4 linked regions of the Homo sapiens genome follow. The protein of the gene in region 2 interacts with the protein of the main gene of each other region in a pairwise test. Each region holds a gene or a part of one and is shown on either strand. Other genes may lie near its edges.

Region 1 (3,859 bases), on a different chromosome or scaffold from region 2:
CCAAAGAGTTCTGTCACCACCACCCAGGTTGCTTTTCCCATCCAAGGTGGGCGTGGCTTGGGACCTCCTCCCCGGCCCGATAGGCCCCTTGAGAGACTCTTGGGGGCAACCTCCCTTTCTACTTAGAGTCCTGTGTAGCCACGTTTGGCTGTGTTGTTGACATCGGGTTCACCATCGTGCCCCTTAGGACCTTGAGTCCTGCCTTTTAGAGTTCCTCCGTCACATGGGCTTTGGGAGGGAACATCGTATCCGAACTCTCCCAGCACTTAACGGCCCCCATGCCGGTGTCCCCTCTTTGGAATCCTTATTCAGCTCTGAATTCACAATCCGTCTCAATGTTGACGTGGGATCGGTGCCTGTGGCTTCAGCTCACTCACTGACATCACTTCCTTTCCACCCACAGCTCAAGTGCAAAAACTGTGAGGCCTTTGGCCACACGGCCAGAAGTACCAGGTGCCCCATGAAGTGCTGGAAGGCAGCCCTGGTTCCACCGAACTTTGGGGAAAAGGAAGGGAAGGAAAACCTGAAACCATGGAAGCCCCAGGTTGAAGCGAACCCTGGGCCCTTGAACAAGGATAAGGGAGAGAAGGAAGAGAGACCAAGGTGAGCAGTGGGAGTGGTTTTCACCACTCTTAGGGTACTGCCTCCTAAGGACATGGTGTCTCTGCACCTGCACACCGTGTGCCTTTCCGTCTCCGGGCCAGGGAAGGAACGCTGCAGAGAAACAGACCGGAGCTCTGTGTCTTCCGGAGTTCCACACCCAAGAGCTCCTTTGGCTCTGGGAGATTCAGGGACGGGGAGGGGCGGGGGCGCTTCGTGCAGGTTCCCCACGACAGGGGGAAAAGTGATGGAATCCAAATCACAGTCCTTAGTTGGGAAGCCTAGAGGGCCACCTGGAGGATGGGAAGGTTGGCACGTGAGGGAAGGTGCAGAGGCGGAAAGGGCACCAGATGTCCATTTCTGTATCACAAAACACGGAATGGGACTGGGCCCCAGACAGGGTTCTCCCCGTCTCCTGGGGAAAACCAGGGAGGACGGCCTGACCTTTTTCTGTTCTGCAGGCCACAAGACCCGCAGAGGAAGGCTCTCCTCCACATATTTTCCAGGAAACCTCCAGAGAAGCCGCTGCCAAATCAAAAAGGATCCACGGAATCTTCTGATTATCTGAGGGTGAGGGTCACCCTGGGCCCCTGGTCTTTTTCTCCTCTAGGTCACCCTGGTTGATTTCCTTTCAGCTTCCCGTCTGCGGGAGGGAATCGGGGAACCCCTCTTTCTTGCCTTCTTGGGGTCAGACACTCCACGATCCTTCCAGGTCAATTTGATTCCAGGCGAAGGCATCTGAAGATGCCGTATTTCCTGTTGCTTTCTTTCTGTCCAATTATGGCAAGCCTGCCAACAACACGTTCCTAGCGGCATGAGGAAATTAGTCCCTCAGAGGCCCCAAACGTGGAGAAGGCTAAACCCAGGAACATGCATATGTTCAGAGAAGACGTCCTGAGTACCCTTGAGCCACCAACCTGCCTTCGGAAGGGCATCAGTCGGTTCCACTTCATGGAAGGCTGAGTGGAGGCGCTTTGATCCAGCTAATGCCTAAGACGCAATCTTTTGAACAATGGTGTGCTTAGATCAGCTACACATAGCTCGAGAGCGCATCTTTCATGTGTCTTGTCCTGATCAGCACTCAGGTGGAGGGTCTGTCCCTACTTCCAAGGACCGCCTGTCGATAGTGTACTAAGAATTTCATGGCGTGTGCACCTTGTCTTTGGATGTGGTTGATTTTCATGTTGGCTCCATGCTGAGGAACTTCTAACCTGTGTTGTTTCCTCTCTTTCAGGTTGCAAGCGGGCCAATGCCGGTCCACACAACCAGTAAGAGGCCGCGTGTGGACCCTGTCCTCTCTGATCGCTCAGCTACCGAAATGTCTGACAGGGGCTCCGTCTTAGCTTCACTGTCTCCCCTCAGAAAAGCCAGTCTGAGCTCCTCCTCAAGTCTTGGACCAAAGGAAAGACAGACAGGGGCTGCGGCCGACATCCCTCAGACTGCAGTCAGGCACCAGGGCCCCGAGCCTCTCCTCGTGGTGAAGCCGACACACAGCAGCCCTGCGGGTGGCTGTCGAGAAGTTCCCCAGGCTGCCTCCAAAACCCACGGCCTGCTCCAGGCCGTCAGCCCCCAGGCACAAGACAAACGTCCTGCGGTGACCTCACAGCCCTGCCCACCAGCCGCCACACACAGCTTGGGCCTAGGCTCCAATCTCAGCTTCGGGCCAGGAGCCAAGAGATCTGCCCCGGCTCCGATTCAGGCTTGCCTGAACTTCCCCAAGAAACCGAGACTGGGTCCCTTCCAGATCCCCGAAAGCGCCATCCAGGGAGGTGAGCTGGGGGCCCCGGAGAATCTCCAACCTCCGCCAGCCGCAACCGAACTTGGACCACGTACGTCACCCCAGACAGGCACGAGGACACCCGCCCAGGTGCTTAGCGGCGACCGGCAGCCTCCGCACAGCAGACCTTGCCTGCCTACTGCCCAGGCCTGCACCATGTCCCATCACCCAGCGGCCAGCCATGATGGGGCCCAGCCTCTCAGAGTGCTCTTTCGGAGACTGGAAAACGGACGCTGGAGCTCCAGCCTGCTGACGGCCCCCTCATTTCACTCTCCTGAGAAGCCGGGAGCCTTCCTCGCTCAGAGCCCTCATGTCTCAGAGAAGTCTGAGGGTCCCTGTGTTCGTGTCCCACCAAGCGTCCTCTATGAGGACCTTCAGGTTCCCTCCTCCTCAGAGGACAGCGATTCTGACCTGGAGTGAGACTGCAGGTGGCAGGGGCTCCTTGGCCTCCAGCTCCCGTGACTTGGAGGGGACTGTGGGACTGAGGAGCACAGAGCAGAGAGCAGACTCTGTGCGGTGACTCCGAAGCTCCCCGGCTGTGGCCCTTCTGTGGATGTGGGAGCCCAGGCCAGGCAGGGAGCAGATGCAGGGACTCTGCCACGTTGAATTCTGGTGAGGGACATTGTAGTTCGCATGGTTCTCTGGAAACGCGCCAGGAAAAGCTTCCGTGCCAGTGATTCGTTGCCTCAGAAACTGCATGACGCGCAGGAGTCAGACTTCCGCTGGGACGTCAATAGGAAACGGGGGAATTACTGTGTATTTGCTCTCTAGACGACTGAATAAGGGAAAAGTTAGGGAACCCTGAGAGGTGCAGCCCTTCCGCTGTGCCCCGCCCTGAGAGCAGTGTTTCGGACGCTGGGAAGCGCGCTGTGCAAAGCGCTCTCGGGGTCTTTCCTCAGCCTCGAAAAGTGGGCTCTGGAATCCCTTTGTAAATAGGTGTGTTGAATTTGTTTTGAAGTGAATAAAATTCTCAAAAAGATGACATATTGTCTTTTGACTTTCATTCCGTGTTTGTGTTTAACTGATTTTCCAAGTGAAGGGGTGGCCTGCCCCTCCACACCTGTGGGTGTTTCTAGTCGGGTGGGATGAGAGACGGAGAAAAGAAATAAGACACAGAGACAAAGTATAGGGAAACAACACTGGGTCCAGGGGACCGGCACTCAGCACACCAAGGACCTGCACCGGCACCGGCCTCTGAGTTCCCTCAGTTTTTTTTATTATGATTTTCATTACTTCAGCAAAAAGGAATGTAGTAGGAGAGCAGGGTGATAAGAAGGAGAAGGTCAACAAAAAAAACATGTGAGCAAAAGAATCTATATCATAATTAAGTTCAAGGGAAGGTACTATGCCTGGACGTGCACGTAGGCCAGATTTATGTTTCTCTCCACCCAAATATCTCAGTGGAGTAAAGAATAACAAGGCAGCACTACTGCCAACATGTCTCGCCTCCCGCCACAGGGCAGCTTTTCTCCTAGCTCAGAG
Region 2 (5,105 bases):
AGAGGTGTGTTGGAGGAAGAGGCAGCGGGTGTGAATGGGGCTGGACAGCGCCCAGAGGCGGGGAAGGACTGTGCCATGAGGACTGTCCCCCGAGGGCACCCAGTGTGCACCCTGGGGTCCCAGCCTCCCTAAGGGAGATCCCGCCCCCTCACTTCACAGTGGGAACCCTGGGGCACCCCACAGACTCCTCATCCTCATGGCCCCCACCCACTGGCCCAAGACCCAGGCAGCGCCGCGGTTCTCCAGCCCATCAGGCAGGCCTCGGCTAACCTCAGGGGACTTGAGCAAGCCACTTCATGCGCTGGCCTCCGTTTCCTCACCCGTAGTAAGGGTCTCACGAAAATCACCGAGTCTTGTGGTCAATGAATGGCTGAATCAAAACTTGCACCCGGGGTGCTGGGCCCGTGCAGGAGCCTCATGGGAGACTGTCCCCGAGGGCGTAGCACCTCGGCCAGGGGAGCTTCCCTGCTATCTTCTCCCTAGCCACCCATAAAGATGCCTGTGTCACTCCTGCATGGAGAGCATCAGGCACAACCCATCTTTTAGTCCCCCCGCCCCTGCCAGGTGCTGGGCTGGTCCAGGGACACAGAGCTGGGACACAGAGTCCTGTCCCATCTGGTGTGGGGGTAAACTCAGTGACTCCCCAGAGTTCCCACAGAGGGCCGCATGGAGGATACAGCCTCCAAGGGGGAGGGCAGTGGTTGCCCCGAAGGCAATGGGTCAGAGGAGGATTTGAGCTACAGCAGCATCAAAGCCAGGCTTCAGGCTCTAGAATAGGCTTGAAGGGCAGGGGCTGCCTGTTCCCTGCCTGTCTCTTGCCCTGCCCAGCCCCCACTGCTCCACCAGGGCAGCTCAGCAACCTCCCCTGCCTTTCCCCCCAGTTCCCTTCTGGGGGTGGGGGGAATTCCCATCCAGGCCTTTTAGAAGGGCTGAAACATTCAATGTAAATAATTAATGCTAGATTTTTAAAATTAAATTTTAATACATTCTTATTAATTTTAGACAAACTCCCTGGCAGGTCATTCGCCGTGAGTGATTGAGGTTGGCAACCAGAGACAGCCTTTGGGTGGGAAAGGCTCCTGAGCAGTGGGGTCCAGGCGCAGCTGGGCCCCTTCAGCTGCGGGATCTCCAGCAAGCCTCTTCTCTGTTGGAGCTTTGCTCCCGCATAGGGGGTCCGGGGCTTCCATGGCAGAGCTGTGGTGAGGAGCCGTGGGAAGCGCTATGATGTGTAAGGGGCGGTGGACGTTATTGTTATGACTACCGTGGCCATTCTGCTGAGGGTGGCCTCCCAGGACCGGAGGGGGGCGGAGGGGGTTTTCCTCATTAGCCCCTGGAGAGCAGAGCTTGCTTCCTCTGCTGTCCCCTCTCTGCTTTGTCTGCTGTCCCCTCTCTGCTGGAGAACTTAGCCCAGAGCTAGTGAACGAGTGGGTGTCCGTGGATGGAGGAACACTTGGATTTCTTGGGTTTGGTTTGATCCTGGTTCAGGTCTGACCCTCTGAGTGGACGGCTCCTCCCACCCTGCGCTGGCTCAGCGCAGGCCAAGCCTGCTGGGTGCTGGGGGTGTCCTGGTGAGAACACAGGGCTCCTGCCCGGGAGCTCACAGCCAGGAGGGGAAAGGGCCAGGAAAGACAGGCTCCAGTGCCGTAGGATCCAGGCATGCACTGTCCGTGTTTATTGAGCGCCTGCTGTATGCTGGGACCTAGCATGAGAAGCGCTGTCATGGGGACCCGGAAAGGTGGGCCTGGGGAAGAGAGCGGTGTGGGGGTCGCGCTGGCCGGCGGCAAAGTCTTCCCGGCAAACTCCTTGTCTTGCAGGAGGAGGGTTTATGGAGGGGTCCAGGCTTGTGGTCTTGGACAACTTTTAGAGCGTCTGGGGAGGGGAACCGCCATCCGGGCGCCTTAGGGATCCCTTCCCCTGAAATTCCTTCCCCCACCCCAGCCGATCCGCAGCCCGCGGGTGCGGAAGGGCAGTGGAGCGCCTCGTCCAGCTGCCTCCCCCTTCCCCCCAGCTTTCAGGTGAGGAAACTGAGGCCGGGAGAGCGCCGGAAGGCCGGCCCGAGCACCCGGGAAGTTGGTGGCCGAGCCTGGCCGAGGCCCCGGGGCCGGGCCTTCTAGCTTGGCGCTGCGGCCGGGCTGCGCCCTCGCCCGGCGGGGCGGTGGGGGAGGCGGCGTGGGGCCCGGACCCGAGCGGAGCGCGCTCCCGGCGGACGCGGCGGCGGCGCCCGGCGCGAGGGGCCGGGATGGGCAGTCATCAGTCTTCCCAGGTCTGTCGCGTGGTCCCTGAGCTCGGACCCCTGTCCCCCTTGAGTGCCAGTCACGGCACAGAAAGACGGGCAAAGCCCCGGGGAGCGGCCTCTCCCGGGTGATAGAGAGCCCGCCCGGCGCCCCCAGCTCCACGCAGGAAGTGCGATCCCGCCCGGGCCGCTCGCGGTCCCCGTCGCTCGCCCGCGCCCACAAGGTTAACGGCGGCGGGTGGGTCCCCCTGCCCGGCGCGCGGAGGGGCTGCCCGGCTGAGCGGGGCTGGGCAGGGAGGGTCTCCAAGCCGCGCGCGGGCGGGTCTGCGCAAGCAAGGCAGGGAGCCCCGCCGGCGAGCCGGGCGCTCACGGGTTAATCCCTGGGGCCCGGGAGGGGCAAGCCAGGCCCAAAACCCCAGAATCTGAGGGCAGCGGGTCCCTGATTGAGGAGTCGAGGCTCCAAATGCCATCGCCCTCGGATTGTGTGAGTGTCAGGTTCTGCAATCCTGCACGGCCCCGAATTCCCCAACATTCTCCGACTCGGAGGTTCTGCGATTCCGGGGTTCGGCTTCCTCCGGGAGGGAGCGCGGGGCAGGAAGGGTTAACGGGCGGGGCGGGGGGAGCAGCGGGGCCGCGGCCGCCGGAGAGTTAACGGGGACAGGCCGAGTCCCCCTCCTCCGGGCGAGGCCGAGATCGCCCCTGGCCGGGCCATCCCGGGCCGGCCCCTTCTTCGCCCCGGGGGGCGTAACTCGGTGCGGGGAGCGCGGCGGCCCGGGCGGGCTCACCTGTTACTCGGCCGCGGCCCGGCGCGCCCACTGAGTCACGGGGGCCGCGGCCGGGACTGGAAGCTGGGGACGCGCGGCGCCGGGCTTCCCACGGACGGGGCCCCGCGGGGTTGCCCGGCCGTGCCCGCTGTGCCCGGCTCTGCCCGGCGCGGCCGCGGAGCGCACGCCTCCTGCCTGCTGACCCTCTCGTTTGGTTTCTCGCAGGCCTCTGCCGCAGACATGGAGAAACTCAGGTGAGTGGAGCGTCTCCCGTGCCGCGGCTCGCGGGGGCCGGGTCGGGGGTGAGGGCGCTGGGGAAGGCGGGGGAAGGGGGCTCCACCCGAGCGCATCCCCCAGGGCCCGCGGGCGGCCTCGGCGGGGCTGCGGGCCAGGTGCGTGTGTGTGGTGCGTGTGTGCGCGCCGCGAGGCGCTGGGGAGCCTCGCGCGGGGCTCCTCCGCCGGCCCGGGCCGCTGCGGCGGGGGCTGGGGCTAGCGCCACTGAGGGCCGGGCTGCCCCCTACCCGGGGCCGCCTGGTCCTGTGCGGTCCTCAGCGCCCCTCTGGCTCCCTGCCCTGGACTCTCGCTGGTCCCCGGGGACCCTCCGGGTTCCGTTCGTGCCGTTCCGCACTGCCCCGGCGCTCTCTCCCCCGACCCCACCCCACCCCCAACCACCACCCGCCCCAGCCCCCGGGCTGCCAGTTGCCTGGCTCTGAGCTTTTAAGTGTCCGCCTCTGGGGGGCGGGGGTGGGGGATGGAGTCCTCGCGGCTGGACCAGGCAGCCGCGTCTTGGAGCCATTTTGGGGGAATCCCGCGACAGCTTCTGGGGAGTGTCCCCCGCGGCCTCCCTCCCGGTGCCAAACTTTAAGCCTTGGTAGACTTCACGGGACCACCTGCGCGGCAGGCCTGGGATCAGCCAGTTTGAATATTTGCCACTTCCTCCACGACTTCCCCTGGCACCCTGACCCCTACTTTGGGAACACCCCTCCCGTGTTTTCCTTCCGGAGCCTGAGCCGAGGCGTTGTGTGGGCGGCAGGCCCAGCTCTGGCTGCTGGGTTTCAGCACTGTCTCCCCTGGCCCACAGGGTCTCCGTCCTCGCCACTCCCTCCCGAGGCCAGAATTGGCATCCTGGGGAGGAGGCCGGGTAGAGGAGCATCCCTCCCCCAAGGAGCAGAGCCCAGCCTGGGCCCAGGTCTAGGGCAGAGGGGCCCTGGGCTCTGCCAGCTGACCCTTAGTGCCGTGGGTGAGTGGCTTGGAAACACCCAGGTGGGAGCCTGGGGGCAGGTGGGCTCACACAGAGACCCAGGGTGGACTCTCAGAGCAGGGCCATCTCCTGGGCCATGGAGCTGATGTGCAGCCCCCACTGTGGGTCCCACAGGGACAGGACCAACATGTCTTGTGCTGGGAGGAGGGGTCCAGTCTCTGAGGTGGTTCAATCTCAGACCCCAAATACCTGATACCCATCAGCCAGGCCCACCTTGTCGTGGCCAAGGTCCAGGTGGGGGCGGTGAGGCCCAAAGAGCGACAGCCCTGGCTGTGGTCACACAGATGACCTCAGGCCCAAACTCAGGCTCTGGCCCAGGCCAGGGCCCTTCCCTGGTGCCCCACATTGGCTGTCATTTCACCACCTGGGTTGTACCGCCTGTGGGGGGGAGGAAACACTGCTTAACTCAGCTGAGACTTGAGGAAAAACTTAGCATTCATGGGGTGCCCTGAGGCCAGCCTGGGGGTTCCCTGCGGTGGTTCTCTTTCTCTTTCCCTCCTTCCCTGTGCCCGGCCAAGGCTCTCCGGCACCTATTCCTGTGTGCCAGGCACTGAGGACAGAGGCATGACCCCGCCCGGCTGGGTGCACAGGTAGGCAGGTGTGCCAGGTGGGCGGATCTGCTGCCTGAGCTGCTGATGGCGTCAGCGTTGCTGTCCCAGGCGGGCTGAGGCTTCCCTGGGCTAAGCCATAAAGGCTGGAGGCAGTGGCCAGGGCCTGGGCTCCTGGGCTGCATCGGGCCATGTGGCCTTTCTGGAGTTGCCAGGGGTGGCGTGGGGCAAGGACTCCTAGAACTGGGGAGGGGTCCTGCCCTCCTCTCCCTCTCACCCAATTAGTGTTCTCAGAGTTG
Region 3 (2,322 bases), on a different chromosome or scaffold from region 2:
CTTCACCAGGTCCAATCACCTCCAACGACACCGAGCCAAGCACGGCACCTGCAAGAAGGAGCCCATCCCTTCCTCCTCTGACGAGTGAAGATAGCATCGTCGACCTCACTACTTGGAACCTTCCCAGGTGGGCCCACTCACATGGTATTGCCAGCCTCACTGGTCAGCCTCGCCTCCCAGCAGGTCGCGGGTCATCAGTGGTCCATTTGATTATTTATTTGATCCCTTGAACAGAAAGTCACCACCGAGAGAGCACCCAGGTGGGTGGTTTCACATCAGTGGTTCTGAGTGTCCGAGGTCATAAGCAATTGGAAAAGGGAAAGACAAAGTAGTGGGAGCTGATCAAACGTTGAGTTCCTTGGGTTGGGGAACCTGAATCAATCAGAAACTGCTTCTAGAATTACATGCTGGGCACTGGGCCGGGCTCCAGGGATAAGGTGGGGAAAAAGACTAACCTGTCCTACCCTCAAAGCCATATGCAAATACTGAAAAGAAGGCCTGAGGGGCTGGTCCTCTTTAGAGAAAGATGCTTTTTGGTTTTTATATAAATAAAGGAATCCCCAGAAGTGGTCCCTATGATGAACTCCCCCAAAGCAACGCCGTTTTTGGAGGAACTCAAACCCAGTCCAACATCCCATCATTTCACTTGACTGCAGAAATGGCTTTACCCTTAGGATATATCTTTATGAGTCTTGGCTTTGAAGTGGAGAAGGGCTTTATCTTAGAGAAGGTGGTTTATGTCATATTCCAGTTATTCTAGAAGTTCAGGACAGCCTTAGCATCTGAAAAAGAAGCCCATTCCTCTTTATAGTGGAATTTAGTAAGTAGATCTAACCCGAGTCTCACCCACAGAATTCATATAAATTCATATATGCCTTCTCTCTGGCTGCCTCTTTTCCTGTTTGCACTCTGAGGGCTTAAGTCATATGTGATATTTACAAAGCAATTGGCCCATTTACAGAGAGACATATATAATTTCTCCACAAAGCCTTGACCATGGTTCATGAAACCGTTTGGGTTCATTTAAATTTGTCTGAATCATTAGTCTTGACTTGAAGTGAACAAAACACCCTTTGCCCAAGTGCCATTGGCTTGTCTGCATTTCAAAATCATTAAAACCAGGTATGGAAGCCTACGTGCTCACAGTTATCTAATGAGGTTATTTCAAAGTTTGCATTACTAACAGCCATTCTGCAAAGTGTATTGATGTGTATAGTGATCTGTATAAAGTCAGTAGTTCTTAGCTGAACCTCAACTGTGAGGAATCTATGACTCCACAGATGTCCTTGGTGCACATAGGCAAACGGCACTTCTCATCTTACTGAAGTTAAATAAGATATTCCATAAGAAGGTATAGTGCCCTTTTTGGGGGAGTACCTTTAGTATATTCCTAAAATTGCCACCAAAGAATGCCAAATCTGAATTTCTCTTGGTTTCCACCTGATTTGGAACTAGGGTGTGACCTCTAAATAGCATTCTCATGACACATGGGGGCGCCAAAGAGAAGTAAGAGAGATAGCTAGATAGCTAGATAGCTAGATAGTCTTGTGTCTTGTTTGACCAAGGTAACCGTAATAAAAGAGTCCATCCCCATCCTTTACTGTTGATGTGACCTTGGGCTTCAGTTTCTGCATCTGCATTGGCAAAATAGAAGTGATAGTAGTAGGTAAAAGTTAGAGTGATCCTACTATATGACGGAAACTTTGGCTGGATGCAAGAGCTTTAAATTGGTAGAAAAGTCACAAGATGAGCTTGTGACTATGAAGAGAGCAAAAGCTAACTTTTTTTTCCTAGATAATCAATAAAATATTTGAAGACTGAAGGATTACTCCTTTTCATTGTATCCTTTCTTGAAGATGGTCATTAGTATAGTTTTTACAAATTAAAAAAATTGGTTTTGTTTTATAATTTTTATGGAGTTGTTCGCCAAAACCTGGTTGCATAGGAGTCACCTGCGCTGTTTGTTAACCATATAACTTGCTGAACCCTAACCTTGAATACTGATAAAGGTCTGCAGTGTGGTATCTAGGTATGGCTTCCACATGGGCATAGCTTTGGAGAAGGAGTGAGCGTACTTGTTAATAGGCAGAAACGCTGGATTTGCTTGTGCTGGGTATCTTTGGTGCTGTATACTATGTTTCTGGAATATAAGGGGTAGAATGTACTGAACAGGTCCAAGAGAAGTTCATTAGTCCTTCAGGCCTTTCACAAAACAACTCAGATTTTAAGGAAAATTGTCCCAACCAGTCTTTTCTCACATCAACTGCAAGGGTCATTCTGAGTAGGTATTAGAGAAGAAAGGAATCCCATTGGAACCAGTAG
Region 4 (3,500 bases), on a different chromosome or scaffold from region 2:
AACCCGGGAGGTGGAGGTTGCAGTGAGCCAAGATCGCACCACTGCACTCCAGCCTGGGCAACAGAGAGAGGCCCTGTCTCAAAAAAAAAAAAAAAAAAAAAAAAAAACAAAAAAGCCCAAAAAAACAGAATGTGTGTAAGGCCTGAAAAGCACTTGGCCCAGTGGCTGGCACTCGGGATATTGTTACGCCCCAGGGTAGTGGCTCTGCAGTGTGCCTCATGACTCGTGAGGCTGGCCCCCATCCCACCCTGTTCAGCCCTGCAGGTGGAGGTGGGTGGCTGGGGCATTGCTGCCACAGCCCGCCCTCTCTCCCATGGGTGAGGGAGGCGGTGTGTCAGAGGCACAAGGGGATGCACGTTAGCTGGTTCTGAATACGCTTGGGGAGGCAACGGAGGCTGGGCCACCTGGTTTGGATTTTGTCTTAATGAAGTCAGGGAAGAAATTGCCACCTAGAGGCAGCCGGGGTAATAAAGCCATAGCCCCTGTGCAAGTCCTCAAAGCTTCATGCAGGCTGGCTGGCAATGGCTTCCTTCCACTTCCCTGCTGAGCAGATGCCTGCCCCAAAAGCCACTGTGGGGATAGGGGAGCCTCCGGTGGGGTATTGGGCCCCTTCCAGAAGAGAATCTTTGGGCGGCTTTTGGTAAGGAAGGAGCGTAGCCACTGCCCCGAGCCAGGCCTTCCCCTCTGCAGGGCAGGCGTTTTTTGGGTGTGTGAGCCCCTCCTGGCCACATCTGGACCAGCCAGGGATGTGTGAAAGCTGAGCTCAGCTGCGGCCCTGGCCAGTGGTCCATGGCTAGCAGTCTTTGGCCAGTGGTCGGAGTGTCTCACCTATCTCTCTGTCCTGGGACAGGGCGTGGAAAAGATACCCCAGTCTGCGGTGACGAGGACTCCAGTGCCCGAAGTGCAGCTCGCCCAGCCCTAGCTCAGTGCCGAGCCCTTAGCGTGGACTGGGCTGGCCCCGGAAGCCCCCACGGGCTCTACCTGACCCTGCAGGTAAGCACTGGGGCCTTCCAGGCTGCATGTGCCTTGGCTCTCTGAGCTCCAGTGGCTGGGTTCCTGCCAGGCTTCTGGGGGTAGGAAGCACCTGGGGAGAGCCGGGGACCCACCTCGCACCTCTCTGTTGGGCCCCTCATGACCCCTCTGCCTGGGAGCCTGCTTTATTAAGTCAGACGGGAAATCTCATAGGAGCTGACAGGAGCTTTTCAGCCATGCCCTGGCTGAGGTGTTAAAATGGGAAGCATGGGGCCTTAGCTGAGATGGGCAGAGCTTGGAGAAGGTATTGGGAAAACAGGCAGGTTTGGGGTGGTTGATTATTCTGAAACATGGTTATGTGAGTATTTCCTTGTATTTCCTTGGGAATATTTCCTTGTTTGAAGTGAGAATTCAAAGCTAGATGGAGGATTCACTAAAACTTGGGGTCTTCTCCCTTGCAGTTATCACCAAGTGACTTTAAAATGACAAAGTAAGGCTAGGCGCGGTGGCTCAGGCCTGTAATCTCACCACTTTGGGAGGCTGAGATAGGAGGATCGCTTGAGCCCAGGAGTTCACGACCAGCCTGGACAATATAGTGAGACCCTATCTCTACAAAAAGAAAAATAAAAAATTAGCTGGGCATGGTGGTTCCTATAGTCCCAGCTACTCAGGAGGCTGGGGTGGGAGGATCGCTTGAGCCCAGGAGGTTGAGGCTGCAGTGATTGCACCACTGCACTCCAGCCTGCGTGACAGAGTGAGACCCTGTCTCAAAAAAAAAAAAAGAAAAGAAAAAAGATAAACTTTACATATGTATGTATATTTGGCTATAGAAATAATACATAACGATAATAGTAATAAGAGCTACTGTTTATCAAACATGGACTCTGTGCCAGGCATTAAAAGATCTCATGTTAGTCCTCATCATACTCATAACAATCTCAGGATACAGTATTTGATCTGAGCTTTATAGATGAGGATGTGGAGGCTCAGAGAGGTTAAGTTACTCGCTGCTGGTCACATATTCGACCATTCAACACAACTAGCCTTGTAACAGGGCAGAGATACAGTTATCCAGAAACTGCCTCTCTTAGTCCTCTATCTTTGAGAAATCCACTATTAAGTATTTGGTGTTTATTTGTTTATCTTTCCTATATAGAACCACTTAATTAAATTTATATGATTTTTATTTTTGAGATGGAGTCTCGTTCACTCTGTTGCCCAGGCTGGAGTGCAGTGGCGTGATCTTGGCTGTAATATCCGCCTCCCGGGTTCAAGTGATTCTCCTACCTCAGCCTCCTGAGTAGCTGGGATTACAGGTGTGCATCATCACACCTGGCTAATTTTTATATTTTTAGTAGAGATAAGGTTTCACCATTTCACCATGTTGGCCAGGCTGGTCTTGAACTCTTTTTTTGTTTTTTTTTTTTGAGACAGAGTCTCGCTCTGTCGCCCAGGCTGGAGTGCAATGGCATGATCTCAGCTCACTGCAGCCTCCGCCTCCCGGATTCCAGTGATTCTCCTGTCTCAGCCTCCCAAGTAGCTGGGATTACAGGCGTGTGCCACCGTGCCCAGCTAATGTTTGTATTTTTAGTAGAGACAGGGTTTCATCATGTTGGCCAGGCTGGTCTTGAACTCCTAACCTCGAGTGATCTGCCCGCCCCAGCCTCCCAAAGTGCTGGGATTACAGGTGTGAGCCAGTGCACCCAGCCATATTTATATGATTTTTTTTTTTTTGAGACAGAGTCTCACTCTGTTGCCCAGGTTGGAGTGCAGTGGCATGATTGCAGCCCACTGCAACCTTCACCTCCCAGGTTCAAGCGATTCTCATGCCTCAGCCTCCCGAATAGCTGGACTACAGGCATGTGCCACCACACCTGGCTAATTTTTGTATTTTTAGTAGAGATGGGGTTTCACCATGTTGGCCAGGCTGGTCTTGAACTCCTTACCTCAAGTGATCTACCCGCCTCAACCTCCCAAAGTGCTGGGATTACAGGCATGAGCCACAGTTCCCAGTGCATATTTATATGATTTTTATTATTTATTTTACATGTTATTCTGTCACTAGCTCTTTCCCTCAAGTAAGTCCTGGTAATCTCTTCATGCTCATCAACACATAGAGAACTACCCTTTTTTTTTTTTTTTTTTTTTTTTTTTGAGCAAGGTCTGGCTCTGTTGCCCAGGCTGGAATGCAGTGGTAGAATCTCACTGCAACCTCCAGCCAAGTCATCTCACCTCAGCCTCCTGAGTAGCTGGGACTACTGGCATGTGCCACCACACCTGGCTAATTTTTGTAATTTTTGTAGAGACGGAGGTTTCATCATGTTGCCCAGGCTGGTCCCGAACTTGTGGGCTCTGCCTTGGCTTCCCAAAGTGCTGGGATTACAGATGTGAGCCATTACGCCCGGCCCTACCTCTTTCTTTTACACGGCTGCGTAATAGTCTACTTCAGGGCTTACCATAAATTATTTATAACAGATCCTCTGTATTGTTTCTGATTGCAGTGAGCTCCTTAAACAAATATCTGTGCT

What was found. Proteins that work in one complex are often made in the same cells at the same time.
Region 1: the proteins of BEGAIN (region 2) and FAM90A1 interact in binary tests that used the Homo sapiens proteins (3 or more experiments, as listed by UniProt).
Region 3: the proteins of BEGAIN (region 2) and ZNF648 interact in binary tests that used the Homo sapiens proteins (3 or more experiments, as listed by UniProt).
Region 4: the proteins of BEGAIN (region 2) and KIFC3 interact in binary tests that used the Homo sapiens proteins (3 or more experiments, as listed by UniProt).

Annotation. Positions count from the first base shown.
Region 1 is NC_000012.12:8,220,760-8,224,618, reverse strand, and holds the end of FAM90A1 (protein FAM90A1), read left to right. Parts: intron 1-403; coding exon 404-603; intron 604-1,061; coding exon 1,062-1,170; intron 1,171-1,834; coding exon 1,835-2,797; 3' UTR 2,798-3,359; downstream 3,360-3,859.
Region 2 is NC_000014.9:100,566,057-100,571,161, reverse strand, and holds part of BEGAIN (brain-enriched guanylate kinase-associated protein), read left to right. Parts: intron 1-1,369; exon of another isoform or gene 1,370-2,015; intron 2,016-2,184; exon of another isoform or gene 2,185-2,239; coding exon of another isoform or gene 2,240-2,263; exon of another isoform or gene 2,264-2,471; intron 2,472-2,668; exon of another isoform or gene 2,669-2,696; coding exon of another isoform or gene 2,697-2,717; intron 2,718-2,860; exon of another isoform or gene 2,861-3,222; coding exon 3,223-3,251; intron 3,252-4,078; exon of another isoform or gene 4,079-4,237; intron 4,238-5,105. UniProt on the Homo sapiens protein: May sustain the structure of the postsynaptic density (PSD).
Region 3 is NC_000001.11:182,054,070-182,056,391, reverse strand, and holds the end of ZNF648 (zinc finger protein 648), read left to right. Parts: coding exon 1-88; 3' UTR 89-1,822; downstream 1,823-2,322. UniProt on the Homo sapiens protein: May be involved in transcriptional regulation.
Region 4 is NC_000016.10:57,792,492-57,795,991, reverse strand, and holds part of KIFC3 (kinesin-like protein KIFC3), read left to right. Parts: intron 1-850; coding exon 851-993; intron 994-3,500. UniProt on the Homo sapiens protein: Minus-end microtubule-dependent motor protein. Involved in apically targeted transport. Required for zonula adherens maintenance.